Linked DNA regions of Homo sapiens: region 2 is linked to region 1. A link means that fine-mapping ties the variant in region 1 to the expression of a gene that starts in the linked region. Tissue or cell type: liver. Region 1 holds a variant in brackets; the other region holds the start of a gene. All regions are shown on one strand. Distances are between the middles of the regions.

Region 1 (8,101 bases):
GGGCTGGGGCCCCCTCCCCCTGAGTCTGAGCCATACTGCCTTGAATATTTTTGCAGCCCTGTTTGACAGAAGTAAGAAGGACATTGTTGTGAGTGTGGCTTTTTCGTATTTTGTCGAAGAATGCCCCTGAGAATAGGCTGGGAGGAGCAGGGTCACGGGGCCAGGACGGAATGTTCTGTGGGAAGGAAGAGTGCTCCTAAGAATAAGTGGAGTTAGAATTCTTGTCCAAACTGTATCCCTGATAAACATCACTTTTTCTCTGAGAGGTGGTATAGTTTTTGTTTGTTTGTTTTATTTTTTAGATACAGGGTCTTGCTGTGTCATCCAGGCTGGAGTGCAGTGGTACAGTCCTAGTTCTAGCTCACTGCAGCCTCAACCTCCTGGGCTCAAGTGATCCTCCCACCTGAGCCTCCCCAGGAGCTGAAACTACAGGCATGCACCACTATGCCTGGCTATTTTTTTAAATTTTTTAATTTTTGTGTAGAGATGGGGGTCTCCCTATGTTGCCCAGGCTGGTCTTGAACTCCTGGTCTCAAGCGATCCTCCTGCCTCAGCTGCCCAAAGTGTCAGGATTACAGGCGTGAGCCACTGTGCCCTACCGAGGTGGTAAGGTTCAATGGGAAAGTGCCAGGCTCTGTAGCCAGAGTGCCTGGGTTCACATCTCAGCTCTGTCACATTTTAGCTTGGTCATCTTGGGCAAATTACACAAACCTGTGTGCCTCAGTTTCTTCAAAATAATATCCTCTGGAGAAGGATGATAATAACAGTACCTATTTCACAAAGATATCATGAAGATAAGATTAGTTAATCCACATGAAGCATTTAGAATTGCATCTGGCATATGATAAACACTCAATAAATATGTTATGTGTAAAAGAGGTTGTTGTGTTAACCCAAGGAAAAGTAGTTTGGGAGCAGTCTGGAAATATGAAGTCACTGGTGTTTGAAACTATAAAATGCACACCAACAAATGCAATGTAATTTCAATTTGAGCTGGGGAGAGGAGGATTGTGCTTGGACCCCAGCTAGGAAGGAACCTGGGAGACAGCCTAGGACCTTCAGGGAAGAGCTTAGCTGTTCTCCCAGAGATAAAACTGAAAACAACAACAACAACAACAACAACAACAACAAAACTAGTCTTTAGGGTTGGCATTGCCAAATTACATCCTTGCATTAAATGAAGTAAGTGTAGGCTGGGTGTGGTGGCTCATGCCTATAATCCCAGCACTTTGGGAGGCCAAGGCAGACAGATAACTTGAGGCCAGGAGTTTGAGACCAGCCTGGCCAACATGGTGAAACTCCATCTCTACTAAAAATGCAGAAATTAGCTGGGTGTGGTGCCAGGTGCCTGTAATCTCAGCTACTCCAGAGGCTGAGGCAGGAGAATTGCTTAAGCCCAGGAGGCAGAGGTTGCAGTGAGCCAAGATTGTACCACTGCACTCCAGCCTGGGTGACAGAGCGAGACTCTGTCTCAAAATAACAACAACAAAGAAAAGAAAGAAAAGAAAAGAAAAGAAGAAAGGAAGGAAGGAAGGAAGGAAGGAAGAGGGAAAGGAAAGGAAAGGAAAGGAAAAGAAAATGGTATAAGTGTAATTTATTTACCTTTGTAGTTGTGGAAATGAGTCCCACCTCTGACCTAATGTTATATAAAGCAAAAATATGTTTTTTTCTTGTTTTTTTTTTCAATGCCATCTGCTGAACCACTTGTATTTTTGGAAGGATGACTTTAGGATTTCAAACTGAGATATGAAATTTAAGAGCTAAATATAGCTGATTTAAAACAACAACAACAACAAAAAAAAACCCAGGAGATCAAGACTTACAAAAGAATTGTGTGGCTTTTTCAAAGAACAAATTTGTGAGCTCAGCCTGAGTCTGGATTACATGTATAATGATCTTGAAACTAGTTTGCCAACTTTTACTTGAAGTAGAAGTAGATGAGAAATAAATCAATGGCTGACATTGACTGAGCACTTACTATGACCCAGGCATTGTGCTAAGTGCTTCCCCTGCGTCACCTCATTTGTTTAATCCTCATGGCCGCCTGTCAGGTGAATACTATTATTATCCCCGGTTTGCAAATAGCGATAGCAAGGTTTAGAGAAGGAGACAAAATGCACAAAAGCAGACAGCTCGTAAGCATTGGAGTTGGCATTCTAATTTAGGGCTATCTAATTTGGGTATGAGTGCTTAAACCCAACATTATAGTTCTAGTGAATCTAATAATTCCTGGCTTAAGCCATTTGTGTCTGTTTGAAGAGTACTGTACATAGAAGCTGATGGACAAGAGTCATAACTCTTGCAACATGGGCACAGCGCTAGTGTGGGCAAAACACACTTAGACATTTTGGAGAGCAGAGTTTGGAAGACTCGGCACCGGACAGGAGATGCACGGCATAATTGCATCTGAGCAAGGAGACTGTTCCAGGCAGCTCCAGGTGTAGGTAAAATCGTGAAGCAAGTTGCCTTCTTCACCTTTCTCTCTGCTCTCCTAGAGGCTTCCCTGCTCATCCCAGGCCACTCAAGATATCAGGGATATCTTTTTCTTTTTTCCAGAGATCTCAGTCACACTCTAACAAGACAGAGACGATCCCAGCTGTGGACTCCCACCAAGCCCCGCTCTGCAATAAATACCCTCCATCTCTCATATCCAGAATTGATCCTCTTTTTTTTTTTTGGTCCATCAGAACCCCCTTTAACCAGCACTTGATGTTTAGCAAACTGTTTGAAAGTAATCAATGAATTCATACACTGGTGCAGCTCTCTTGGGGGACTTTTAGGCTTCAGTGTGACAGTGACTAGGGGAGATGCACTTAGGGCAGGGAGATTCCCAGGAAACCCCTGGCCAAATGCCACTGTAGTTATCTGTTCCCTGGTGGGAAAGGCACTCTCCTTTCTGATGGTCTGAGGTCCGGACTGCAGGCTTTTGCTGTGTTCCTTCATAGGAGGCTGCTTACCTGAATTTTCAGAACAATTCCTAGCACCAGCTCAGCAGGGACAGCACCCGGCAGCAGTAGGAAGCGGGTGTGATGTTCTTCCTGGGTGCCCAGAGCCCTCTCCCTCTGTCCTTTTTCTTGGTGGCCCCTCTCCCACCCCATTCCCAGCCTCTCCCAGGCTCCCCTTCCTTCCTCACCTCCAGGAAAGCCTCGAGGCTCTTAATTCACGGGACAACCTTAAAACGCACACTGGCCAAGCATGGGCGTGTTTATAACAAGAATCAAATTATTTTGCTGGAAACAAGAGGACAATGGAATTTAGGAATCAGCAGTTCTGGGAGAGTTTTTTAAAATGTTGGAATTCGGGTCCTCCTTAGACGTCCCTGCCTCAAATAATGCACTGTAAACCGTTCTCATTCATGGCCCATCAGTCATTGCGCAGGGTCCTAGTTTAATAAGTATGGGGAACTGGGGAAAGGAAGGGAAACCTGTTGCTCATCCCAGGCCTCCCAAGATTTTGGGGATGGCAAAGAGGGGAGGGCTTCCACATCTTCTGCACTTTCAGTCTTCTAGAGGCAATGAAGATACCAGATACCTTCTTCTTTAGTTTCAGCCTGTTTGTTTGTTTGTTTTTTCTAGACAGAGTCTTGCTCTGTCACCCATGCTGGAGTGCAGTGGTGTGATCTCGACTCACTGCAACCTCCGCCTCACAGGTTCAAGCGATTCTCCTGCCTCAGCCTCCTGAGTAGCTGGGATTACAGGCACCTGCCACCACACCAGCTAATTTTTGTAGTTTTGGTAGAGACGGGGTTTCACCATGTTGGCCAGGCAGGCTGGTCTTGAACTTCTGACCTCAGGTGATCCGCCCTCGTTGGCCTCCCAAAGTGCTGAGGTTATAGGTATGAGCCACACGCCTGGCCATAAGCCTGTGTTTTTAAAATGAGGTTCCAGGCAGATACAAGCAGAAAGGAAGAGTTGCAAAAGCAGACACGATACAGAACAAAATGCCCCAAGGTAGCAGGGAGGGCTTGGTATGTTTATT[A/G]TGCAACAAAGGACTCTCCTGGCCCTTGGAACTTTCCATAGTTTGACTTTCGGGTTAATCATTACCATCTGCATGGCTGCTGGCAGCCGAGGCTTTGCTTGGCCTGCCGGGCCTGGCAGTCGCGTTGCTGGCCAGCCTGAGGGCTGCACTAGCCATAGTTAGCTGCGATGCCCCCTTGAGTTTCCTGCAGGAACAAGCAAGGGTGCCTGCGGCCTGCTGACGCAGGCTGGCGGGGAGTGGCTTGCCTTAGGCCTGTCTCCTTGTCTCTCACAGCTGGCTCTCCAGGGCCGGTCTGGTTTTCATAGTCTCACGTTTCCTTTTCCAGCACACTTGTGTGTGTCTGCATACCACGTGAGAACACAGCCTGCTCTCTTCCTTGGAGTGGCTGGATTTCCAGCAGGCACCACACGTGCTTGTTCAGATGCAAGGATACGTCATGGAAAAGAGAGGCCTGAATAGATGCATCTTAGTTCATACACAGCTGTCAGGACTTGAGGCACGCATCAGCAGAGCCTGGGAAAAAGCATGAGATCTGCTTTTAGAATCATGAGCACCAGAGCTGAAAGGGATCTTACTCTCTATTCGAAACCCTTCATTTCACAGCTTTGGAAAATGAGGCTTAAGACAGGTGGGGAGTTGCCTTGGGTCACAGAGCAAGGTCCAGGGGTCCTTCTATTTCTTGAAACCAAACTGGTTGTGTGGAGAGTCTTGAGAGGAAGCTAAAGTTACATGGGTGCTGGATTTTTCCATTTGGCCTTAGAAATCACTCTCCACCGTTTTCCACCCGCGCTGTGCCTGGGAGGCTGGCCAGACTGGCACCCTTACATCTGGCTTCCGGGTAGATTTAGCCAGAGGAGGGCACCTGCAGGTAGGTTTAGAGGGAGGGGAGTGTGTCATGGAGGATTTAGTCCACTTCTTCCTTTCCCGCTGCTTCCATGGGCTGGTGGTGTCCGCTGACTGAAGGCCAGGACTCCTGTCAGCAACCACCCCCTGCACTCAGCTCTCTCCCCTGACCCTTCAGGCCTAAGGCAGTGACAGCATCTCCTACAGTGGGCAGCCCTGGGCTACGCTGCTGTCTCCTGTGGCCTCCCAAACCCTCCTCAGACCTTTGTAAATGGTCCCTTTATTAAACCCTCAAGTCAAAGAGAGAGTGTTACCTGCTGGGCTCCTGACTGAAAGAATGGATCCTGACCCACCTGACAGGTGGCTTTGTTTGTTAGCATAAAAGAGAAAATCTGTAGGAAAGGAAGATGTCCCTGAAATTTAGGAAGAGGGTGTGTTAGTTTCCTGTGGCTGCTCTAACTAATGACCACGAACTTGGTAGCTTAAAACAGAACAAAACCAGAAATGCATTCTCTCCCAGTTCTGGAGGAGAAAACTGGGGTCTACCGGCCGGTACTCCCTCCAGTGGCTCCAGGAAATCATCTGGTCCTTGTCCCTTGCCTCCTTTGGTGTCTGGTGGCTGCCAGCATTCCTTGGCTTGTGGCCATGTCCTTTTGATGTTGACCTCCGTGGTGACACTGTGTGTATGAAATCTTCCTTTGCCTCTCTTGTATAATGATGCTTGGGGTTGCATTTAAGGCCCACCCAGATAATTCAGGATAGTCTCCCTCTCTCAGAAATCCTTAATTTCATCACATTAGCAAATACAGTAAGATATTTACAAATAATAAAACATTGTTCCAAATAAGATAACCTGGCTGGGCACTGTGGCTCATGCCTGTGTGGTGGCTCATGCCTATAATCCCAGTGCTTTGGGAGGCCGAAGAAGGAGGATTGCTTGAGCCCAGGAGTTCAAGATTAGCCTGGGCAACACAGTGAGACCCCTGTCTCTACAAAAAATAAAAAAATTACCCGGGCATGGTAGCACACGCCTGTAGTCCCAGCTACTTGGAAGGCTGAGGTAGGAGGATCGCTTGAGCTCAGGAGGTCAAGGCTGCAGGAAGCTATGATTGCACCACTGCACTCCAGCCTGGGCAACAGAGCATGACTCTGTCTCCAAAACAAAAGAATAAGATAATGATAACCTTTACAGGTTCCAGAGATTGGGACCTGATAAATTTGAAGTCATTATTCAGCCTCTGGCAGAGGGTGAGAGAGGCACATCAGAGTTCCTTCAGGACATCTCTAATGGCACACATTTATGGATACCTTCATGCTTGACAAAAGTAGTGACCAGTCTCTGGGGGCAGACACATTTTTGAGGATTCTGTTCAGCTCCATACTCTCTAATTCTCTTATCTTTTTGTCTGGCAGCCAGATATCATTGTGATGGTCCCATTCTGAAGCCAGCTGATTTGTTACCAGGCAAAGCACTCAGAGAAGACAACATAGTGGGCCGCGATGAGGACACAAAAATTGTGGAAGGGCCCAGCGTGGGGACATTTAGGGCATGGAAGTCATTTGACTCAAGGGTTGGATCCTAGAGGTCAAGAATTGGGAGGCCCTAAGAAATGACCTAGCTCAGCCACCTCCTTTACCAGGTGGGGAAAATTAGTCCTGATGTGGGAATTTCCTTATCCGCCGCTGGTCAGTGACAAGGCCCGGACTAAAACAGAAGTCTTGGCACTCAATCTAAGGACTTCTCCTCCGTGCCTCCCTATCACGCCTTCCCACCAACTGGCCTCCTCCCCAGCATCTGTGAGAATTCTTTGTAGGAATTCTACCCCCAATAGTTTCATTTACTGAAAGGCAGTGGGAATGTACTCGATGTCAAGTCTGTGATGCAGCATGAAAGAAGAAACAACACTGGGGACAGTGGCTTCGCTCAGTGCCACTCACAGTGCCAGTTCTCGATGAGATCAGGAGACTGGGCTGGAACAGAAATCTACATCCAGCTTCCTTCATGGAGAAAATCTTGCTGTGGAGGCCAGGCAGGGGAGCAGCAGTGCTTAGTGAGGTAACTGGCTTACCTTCTGCCACAGGCTCCTTATCTCAGCACTGGCCAGTGTGATGGTCCCTGGCTGGAGAACACCAGGAACAGCATTGCCTCACTGCTGCTTGAGCAAACCCACCTCCCAAATAGGGCATGGTGATAGAAGAATATGCAGAAAAGACAACAGTCCCTCTGTCCAGATCCCATCTAGACAATAGAGCTCAGATTGGGAGCCATTCTTTTTTTTTTTTTTGAGATGGAGTTTCGTTCTTGTTGCCCAGGCTGGAGTGCAATGGTGCGATCTCGGCTCACCGCAACCTCTGCCTCCTGGGTTCAAGCGATTCTCCTGCCTCAGCCTCCAAAGTAGCTGGGATTACAAGCATGTGCCTCCATGCCTGGCTAATTTTGTATTTTTAGTAGAGATGGGGTTTCTCCATGTTGGTCAGCCTCGTCTCAAACTTCTGACCTCAGGTGATCTGCCCGCCTCAGCCTCCCAAAGTGCTGGGATTATAGGCATGAGTCACTGCGCCCGGCCTGGGAACCATTCTTTAAGGGAGGTAATGATATTCTAGAGATCTTCCTGTAGTTCCTGACTCACAGAGCACAATTTTTGTGAAGATTAGAAGAGGCTAGGTGTGGTGGCTCACACCTTTAATCCCAACACTTTGGGAGGCTGAGGCAGGAGGAGCCCTTGACGCTAGGAGTTCAAGACCAGCCTGGGCAATATAGTGAGACACCCCCATCTCTCCAAAACATTAAAAAAAAAAATTAGTCGGGCGTGGTGGCAAGTGCCTGTAGTCCCAGCTACTTGGTAGGCTCAGGCAGGAGGATCTCTTGAGCCTGGGAGTTCGAGGCTACAGTGGAGCCTCGGCTTCCCAAAGTGCTGGAATTATAGGTGTGAGCCACCATGCCTGGCTACATAAATTATTTGGAATTCCATCATGGACATTTGTCTCTTCTCTTCATTTATTTATTTGTTTAATCACTAACTTATATTTGTAGGGGCTTGTGGATTTCTTTTAATACTTTGAGTTGTAATCAAATACTGATTTATTAATCTTGTTGCTCAAATTGTTCCAGCTTCGCCCATTGAGCGCTCTCTCATTTGGCTTCTGTGTCCCTTTGCTAGACCCCATTATTGTGGGTCTTGGTGTTGTATTTGTGTTTTGAGCACTTTTTTTTTTTTTAACCTTCTGGTTCTACAAGATACTCCAGGCTCATCTTATATGTTCCCTGACCAAGTCCTAG
Region 2 (8,101 bases), 53 kb after region 1:
ATACAGAAGAAAACAGATCAATGGGTGGATATGACAAGAGTTGTTCACCAGAGCAAAGTCTGGGCAAGGGTCTTTCAGCAGACCCCAGGTGGGGGGCTCAGCCAAGTCTTTAATAAATGCAGTTTGGATCTTTGTTAATCTTCCTGGAACTCTGAAAGAGTATTTTCTTTTTTTTTTTTTTGAGATGGAGTCTCACTCTGTTGCCCAGGCTGAAGTACAGTGGCATGATCTCGGCTCACCGCAATCTCTGCCTCCCCGGTTCAAGTGATTCTCCTGCCTCAGCCTCCCGAGTAGCTGGAATTACAGGCGCCTGCCACCACACCTGGCTATTTTTATATTCTTAGTAGAGATGGAGTTTCACCATGTTGGCCAGGCTGGTCTCATACTCCTGACCTTAAGTGATCTGCCTGCCTTGGCCTCCCAAAGTGTGGGATTGCAGGCATGAGCCACCGCACCCAGCCTGAAAGAGTATTAGCTATGAACATACCCTGACACCTCTCTTTTAAAAAATTAGAAAGGAGCTTCTCTTTATAATTTTCTGTATAAATGCATTGTACACAGTCCTGATTTCGGTGTTTGGGTAGTGGAGGGAAGATTGTAATTCTATAGATGTTTGTAGTCTACAGGTAAAGGATAATTAGGTAAATATCTGATCTTGCAAGGTTAAGACTGTCATGTTAACATATTTGAATGCGGTCAGATGCTGTTATTGGCAATGTTGTCTTGATTAGACATCATCATGCCCTTGCCTGGTTAGACTGAGGTAGGGCAGAAAAGCAGATAGGGTGGCCACAGCCTCCTGTTGGCAATGGCACGTCTTCACTGACAGGGCTAGAGTGTTCCTAGTTGTGACTTTGCAACCTGTACCAGGTAAGAACGAAGCCAGGACTAGGAGCAGCAGACTGAGAGGAGTGGTCCAGCTAATGGACTCATATTCATTACTGCTTACACTAAGTTCAAGAACTTGCAGAGGAGTGATTTTCAGAAACCTTAGGCATTTATTTGCTAGTCCAGTCTCAAGAAGTTGCTGCAGGCCGGGTGCGGTGGCTCACACCTATAATCCCAGAACTTTGGAAGTGGGTGGATCACCTGAGGTCAGGAGTTCAAGACCAGCCTGGCCAACATGATGAAACCCCGTCTCTACTAAAAAATAAAAAAATTAGCTGGGCATGGTGGCAGGAACCTGTAATCCCAGCTACTTGGGAGGCTGAGGCAGGGAGAATCGCTTGAACCCAGGAGGCGGAGGTTGCAGTCAGCTGAGACTGCACCACCGTGCTCCAGCCTGGGTGACAGAGTGAGACTCCATCTCAAAAAAAAAAAAAAGTAAATTGCTGCATAGGTGAGGCTTAATCTTACTGGGGCCATCACTTGGTCCTGGGTTCTGTTATTTTCTGGCCCAGAAACTAGATTTCCCCAGGGGGAGTCAGGCTTTAGGAATTTATGTCACCTTAGCCAAACTCACAAGGACTATTTGTAAACTAGAATGTTTGTTTTTTCTTACATATATATTGAACACCTACTGAGTGTGTGGTTCTGTCCTAATTTCTGGAGGAAGTCCCAAAGGGGGGTAAAGTCCCTTTAGAAGCTTGTGGGACAGATATGTAAATAAATATGTTATATATGGTGTGCTAAGTGTAGAATGGCCTTACATCCTGGTCTTCTGGAGACAGTCCTGGTTTATGCCTATAGTCCCTGTGTAACTATTAAGAATGCTGTCTTTCACTTTCAGATCTAAGGCCACAGGAAGTGTTCTTTATGGATGTTCGGGGTATAGAAATGATAGAAAGGAAGGACAATGAGCCTGCTTCCCCCTGTAGACACTTGAGCTAAGTGCTGAAGGACGTTCGAGCAGCTGAAGCCTGGGAACTTGGGGTGGGCTGGGGTGGGGGAGGAGGTGTGTTCCAGGAATTCGCAAAGCTCCCTCTGCAGGCAAAGGGAGACTGTTCCCGAAGCAGTAAGCAGTTGGTTCAAGCTAGGCACTGTTTCCCAAATTTACCCTGTGATAACAGTTCCCCAGGACACTTAGTGAACACACAGATTTCCAGACTCTGCTGGCAATTTGGATTTTTTTAAGAAGGCTGGCGGATGATTCTTGGGCATATTAAAGATTGACAACGAGTTCTCTACTCACTGTGGCTAGGAATACAAAAGGATGGGCATAGAGGGGAATGGGAACCGAAAGATTAGAGCACGAGTCACTGATCAGCCAGGCAGGGGTGACCTCAGGCAAGAAAACCTTCAGAGGTAAAACCAGGTGGGAGTTATTTACAGTAGATCATGAAAGATGGGGAGTGCGGGAACTATGTCAGTCACCACAGGGATGCAAAGGAATGAAAAGATAAGAGAACTATTCAGGAGGAAGAACAGGTCCTAGTGTATGCTAGTTACTGATTTGCTGGGGTAATATTATTTCCCAGAAACAGAACCCTGTGTCAAATCCAGGAGCCTGGGGGACTGTAGAACCTGAAGTTTTACTGGGTAAGCATAAACCTAAAACTACAACAGTTGGATAAGTGGTGTGATATATTTCACATGGACCTCCTGCCTAGTTCACTTCTTTATAGTCGCTAGAACACTCATGACAATTTATTTCTGGGAAGAAGCCAGGATGAATTCGAAAGCATCCTGACACCCCACCCCTTTCTTTTCTCTAGACTTCAGGTTAACTCCTGCCCTTCGGTTTTGGTAAAACTACCCTGCCAAGCCTTATCTTGTATTTTGCTCCTGTTTTTGTTATCAAATGTGTAAAACAGTCACGATGAATATACATGCCAACTGCTTTCAGAGGCAACGGTTAGTCTCTTGCAAGTTTCAACGTGCACATTTTGGAGCTGCTGTCTCTGTGGGAACCTGCAGGCACCTCATGGATGCACCACAACTCGGAAATTACAGTACCACCTGGAACACCTTATCCAGGCAAGGAGATCATTAAGCCTGGTGTTTGAGGCAATCGATTCACTTGGAAGAAGGTGCTTTGGTGGTTTTGAGAGGAACAATCCCTACATGAAATCCCTCCATGGGAAATGGAGAACATCAGCTATTTCCCATTGCCTTCAAACCTAAAGATGTCGCCAGGCCTCTTGGCTTGTTACTGAAGCAGCGAAATAAGTCAGAAATCAAAGACTTAGAAGTTACGAAAAGAAAATCTCAAAAAGGAGAATGGGGTCAGGCGCGGTGTCAGGCCTGGAATCCTAGCATTTTGGGAGGCAGAGGCGGGAGGATCGCTTGTGGCCAAGAGTTCAAGACCAGCCTGGGCAACATATCGAGACGCCTGTCTGTATTTTAAATAAATAAATATGGAGAATGGGAAACCCATCAGGCTGTAATCTCACAGGGAATTTAGTACCCTTTACCTAAGACAAGACCTGGGCACTTGGGAAGCCTCCCCGAGTGCGGTTTGGGGAGGGGGAGGGCATCTTAAATTCCAGTCCTCGGTCACTCTTGTGGCTTTGCCAAGGGATTTTCAAATCCCGGGAATGCCAGGGATGGAGATGAACAGGCTGAAATCCCCCACGCTGCCAGGGTTAGGGAGGGGAAAACAACAGTCCACAGCGGCCGCGAAGGTTTGTATTTTTTTTTTTTTGGTAACAAGGGGCTTGTGTGCAGTCCAATATCACCATCGCCGTGAAGTCACAGTGGCAAGATGAAAATGTTTAAAAAAATTTTAAAAAGGAATAAGGAAAGAGGAAGAGGACAGCGTGCCCCGGCTCAGAAAACGGTCCTCCTCTGCCCCGGACGCCGGCGGACCTGTGGGGTATGACCGAATCTCCCCGCGCAGCCGGCAAGCCCCGGCCCTCAGTCGGGCCGCGACCAGCGTGACGCCGCGGTAGGGGGATCCGGCGGGCGCGCGGCCGTCTTCAAAGCCCCGGCGCCGCCGCCGCCCCCGCGCGCGCGCGCGAGTAGTACGGTCCGAGGGGGCGGCTTCTGGGGCGCGGCTCCGGCGGCAGCTGATGCGCGCCCCGCCGGCCGGGAGGCGGGAGTCCGCGAGCCGGGAGCGGGAGCAGCAGAGGTCTAGCAGCCGGGCGCCGCGGGCCGGGGGCCTGAGGAGGCCACAGGACGGGCGTCTTCCCGGCTAGTGGAGCCCGGCGCGGGGCCCGCTGCGGCCGCACCGTGAGGGGAGGAGGCCGAGGAGGACGCAGCGCCGGCTGCCGGCGGGAGGAAGCGCTCCACCAGGGCCCCCGACGGCACTCGTTTAACCACATCCGCGCCTCTGCTGGAAACGCTTGCTGGCGCCTGTCACCGGTTCCCTCCATTTTGAAAGGGAAAAAGGCTCTCCCCACCCATTCCCCTGCCCCTAGGAGCTGGAGCCGGAGGAGCCGCGCTCATGGCGTTCAGCCCGTGGCAGATCCTGTCCCCCGTGCAGTGGGCGAAATGGACGTGGTCTGCGGTACGCGGCGGGGCCGCCGGCGAGGACGAGGCTGGCGGGCCCGAGGGCGACCCCGAGGAGGAGGATTCGCAAGCCGAGACCAAATCCTTGAGTTTCAGGCAAGTACACGGCGTCCCCGCTGAGATGCAGACGCGCTTGCCTCCATCCATCTGCGACTCCCTCTGTGTGCGTGTGTGTGGTCGCCACCCGCGAAACCGTCCTCACGGCCGTGCCGCGTCCCTGCCCGGAGCCGGGTCCCCGTGTGCGTCCGAAAGTTCAGGATCTTCTGTCCTCCCGTGGGGTTTCTGGCCCCCGTTTCGCTAGGAGAGTTCCGCACCCAACCCAGAATCTGCAGTCTCTCCGCATCCCCGCTGGCCTCGGTCACTTTCTCTAAGCTTCGACCCCCAGCCCCCGCCCCTCCACACTGGAGCAACGTCACTGATCTAACCCAGTGCAACTTAGGGCCCCCCCGTGGGGAAGAAGTCGCTCCCCGGCCCTTCCCGGGGCCCTACCGTGTACCCAAAACGCAGCCGCGGTGAAGAAGGTCGCGTGATGACAGGCCCCTGGCAGCTGCTGGGAAATGGTGGTCTCTGCCGGGCTGTCATCCGCGTGATTGCGGAAGGCAGGTGACACCATTCTTAGCCTCGGGCCCAGGGAGTTCCAGCAGGTAGAGGCCTACCGAGCAAAGAGGAATGCCTAGCATCGGCCTAACTCGGGGGTGGGACCAGTATTAATTGTTAAAGCCTCTGGGAAAGGGCTCTTGTGACAAAAGGAGTCTGTTGGAAAAGCGCATTTTTCAGGTGTCTGAGGGAAGGATGACCTCGAAAATAAATGGTGCTGGAGAAAAGCTCCAGGGAATGGAGGAGCTTTCAGAGAGACAGGATGCCAGCCTGAGAAACCCAAGGAGGGCACTGCTCAGAGACCGCAGTTGCCTCCCGCAGGTCAGACCCTGCTGAGGACCGGTTGGTTGTGAAGTTAGACAAAAGTGCTGGACTTTTAGCCTCTGTGAATATGTAGATTTCAAAGGGTGTCGGAAATACCGTTGAAAGTGGTAATTCCTCATTTTTCCTCCTTGGCAGCTCGGATTCTGAAGGTAATTTTGAGACTCCTGAAGCTGAAACCCCGATCCGATCACCTTTCAAGGAGTCCTGTGATCCATCACTCGGATTGGCAGGACCTGGGGCCAAAAGCCAAGGTAAAGAAAAACTTGCATTTTTCCTGCCTGTTTTGTTTCAAAAGTTTTGAAAAATATCAATGAAGGAAGGAAAAAAGTGTAAATTTAGGACCATTTAAGAGAGTTTGACTAAGAAAGAGCTGTTTGAAACCTCCTGGCTTATGTATTTTTAGGGGTGTGGTGATCGAGGCTTTCTCCTCTGAGTAGAGTTTGTGCATTTGCAGTATAAGATTATCATTATCAAACATTCCTACTAGGCCTTTCTCCTCAGCCCCTAAAAAAATATGTATAGTAATGAAGTAGGAAGATCATGTTTATATTTGACTTCACAAATTCCTCAGGCTAAGTTGCTTTCTACTGGGGTGTGGCTGGAGACAAAAATTACAGGTAAGACTTGACTTAATTTTTGATAGGGAGGTTCTTAAGAGGCTTTTTCGGAATCACTCACCTCGCCCACTTCCATGCAGGGATGTGGTGAGAGCCCTTCAGTCTACTTAGGAAAACCTGGCACATGGATTCCCTCCCAGCCCCTCAGAGCCCAGCCCTTCATCTGCAGGAGCTTCCGTTGTCTCACTTAATTAGTAGAAACCTTTTTTGTCACACAGCCAGTTCAGAATAAAATTTCACCTATCCCAACAGAATTCATATGCTTATTTACTAAATAGAGTGCACTGTGATTCAGCAGTGAAGTCCTGCTCTCTCGAGCTAACATTGTGGAGGGAGAACCTGTGAAGGGTTAAGCAAAATATCTATGTCAGCTTGTGTGAAGCACTGTGGAGAAAAATAAAGCAGGGGAAGAGAATAGGGAATATGGAGTGGGGATAGGGAAGGCTGAAGGGGAGTTAGTGGGGGCATTCATGATTAGGTGACTTGAACAGAGACCTGAAGGCAGATTGAGGGAGCAGGCCTTGGAGGTTCCTGAGGTGGGAACCCTTCCAGCAGAAGGAGTGGCATCTGCAAAGGTCTGACAGCACCAGCCTGCTGCAGGGAGGCCGTAAGGTGGAGGGTTCATGGTACAGTTTGAGGACCAGCCAGGAGGTCAGTGTGGACTGACTACTCAGAGAGCAGGAGGAGCTGAAGTCAGCGTGGTCAGAGGAGGTCCAGATGCTGCTGCAGTGAGGATTTGGTTTTCAGTAAGGTGGAAAGCCACTGGAGGGCATATGCATTTCCAAGGGCTGCCATAACAGAGTAACTTAGCGGCTTACAATAACAGAAATTATTCTCTCACAGTCCTGGATAATTGAAATCAGAACCAGAAGTCTCAAGTCAAGGTGTTGGCAGGGCCTTGCTCTTCTGAAGGCTCCAGGAAGTCTGTCCTTGCCTCTTCTAGCCTCTGCTGGGTGTCTGCAATCCTTTGTGTTCTTTGGCTTGTGGCAGCAGAACTCCAGTCTCTGTCTCAACACATGGCCATCTTCTCCCTATGTATCTGTCTTACCGTGCCCTTCCTGTGAGGACACCAGTCGTTGAAGTTAGGGCCCACCCTAATCCAGTTTGACCTCATCTTAACTTGGTAACATCTTCAGAGATACTATTTCTAGATAAGGTCACATTCATAGGTACTAGGAGTTGGGACTTTAACATATCATTTTGAGAGACATAATTCAGCCCACAACAGAGAGCTTTGAACAGAGGGATTGTGATTCAGCTTCTTTTGTAAAAGGCTCCCTGGGCTGCTGTGTGGAGAAGGGACTCTAGGATGGAAGTCCTTTTTATGTGGTTTCTCTGTTCCAGTATCTGGCACTGTCACCCTGAAGTGGCAGCGCCAGCTTTCAGTTATCTAGCTACCTAAACTTTGTGCTGATTGTGACTTTCTCCTCTCCCTAATAAGTATTTTTATTGCTTAGCAACTTCTTCGTAGGTTGCCTAGGGAAGTCAAGTTACTCTGGTAATAGACTGCATGATGGAGCTGGAATTATTGGTAAAATGACATCAGCAAAAAGCTGATTTGGTTTTGCTTTAAATTGATAGCTCCATGCTGTGCTTACCCAGCTGAGAATTCAGCAATACCCTCAACTTGCCCTAGGCTGCATTTTGCCATTGTTCTAGGCAGGGACAACATGGGAATAGGCAAGCTTATATACTGGAGAATTTGTGTGCGACGCATAGCTGTGTAGCACTCTCAGTGATGAAGATAACACTTATTCCTCATAGCTTCCCTTTTCTTCCGTAAAGATTGGCAGATCAGAAGGGAGATTTTGAAGCTTGAAAGAACTATTTGGTGGCCTTTCCATCAAATTTAAATAAAGCTCATAAGACACATGTTAAGGAGCTGTTTGAAAGCCTTTTTGAATTGCCATCAGCTTGGGCGGCCCTTCCTCATCGTTTTGTCAGCTGCTAGACTGATTCATCCCGCCAGATTCTTTGCCAATTGAATAGAGGCCTGGATGACCTAGGCCCCCAAAACCACAGAGACCCAATTGTTTGGTCCTTCCTGTACCAGTGACTCTCACATTTTTTTCATTCTCTCTAAAAGGAAAACTTTTAAATGTTTATGGATCATGAAGGCTCTATGGGGTAGTTCATGAATGCAGACTGTAATTGTAGGGGTAGAGGAGTGTCCA

Alleles and levels. Positions count from the first base shown, and alleles are read on the strand shown. Sizes are in standard deviations (SD) of each study's normalised expression.
For the expression in liver of the gene that starts at base 3,978 in region 2, G is the high allele of the variant in region 1 and A is the other (small effect, 0.27 SD a copy in GTEx).

The links. PIP is the estimated chance that this variant, and not a neighbour inherited with it, causes the effect.
Region 2: TACC1 starts here. The variant in region 1 is fine-mapped to the expression of TACC1 in liver (GTEx, PIP above 0.99).

Annotation. Positions count from the first base shown.
Region 1 is chr8:38,730,639-38,738,739 of GRCh38, forward strand. It overlaps a transcript of TACC1 not described here. Among named protein-coding and RNA genes, the nearest start is that of TACC1, 53 kb to the right of the region's middle. RefSeq lists enhancers at 3,771-4,270, 4,851-5,350. The variant A/G (reference allele first, on the strand shown) is at 3,979.
Region 2 is chr8:38,783,259-38,791,359 of GRCh38, forward strand. It overlaps TACC1 (transforming acidic coiled-coil containing protein 1), which reads left to right and starts at 3,978. Exons shown (of 13, transcript NM_006283.3): 1 at 3,978-4,485; 2 at 5,446-5,561. The coding sequence starts at 4,325. RefSeq lists an enhancer at 3,582-3,661 and a silencer at 3,702-4,241.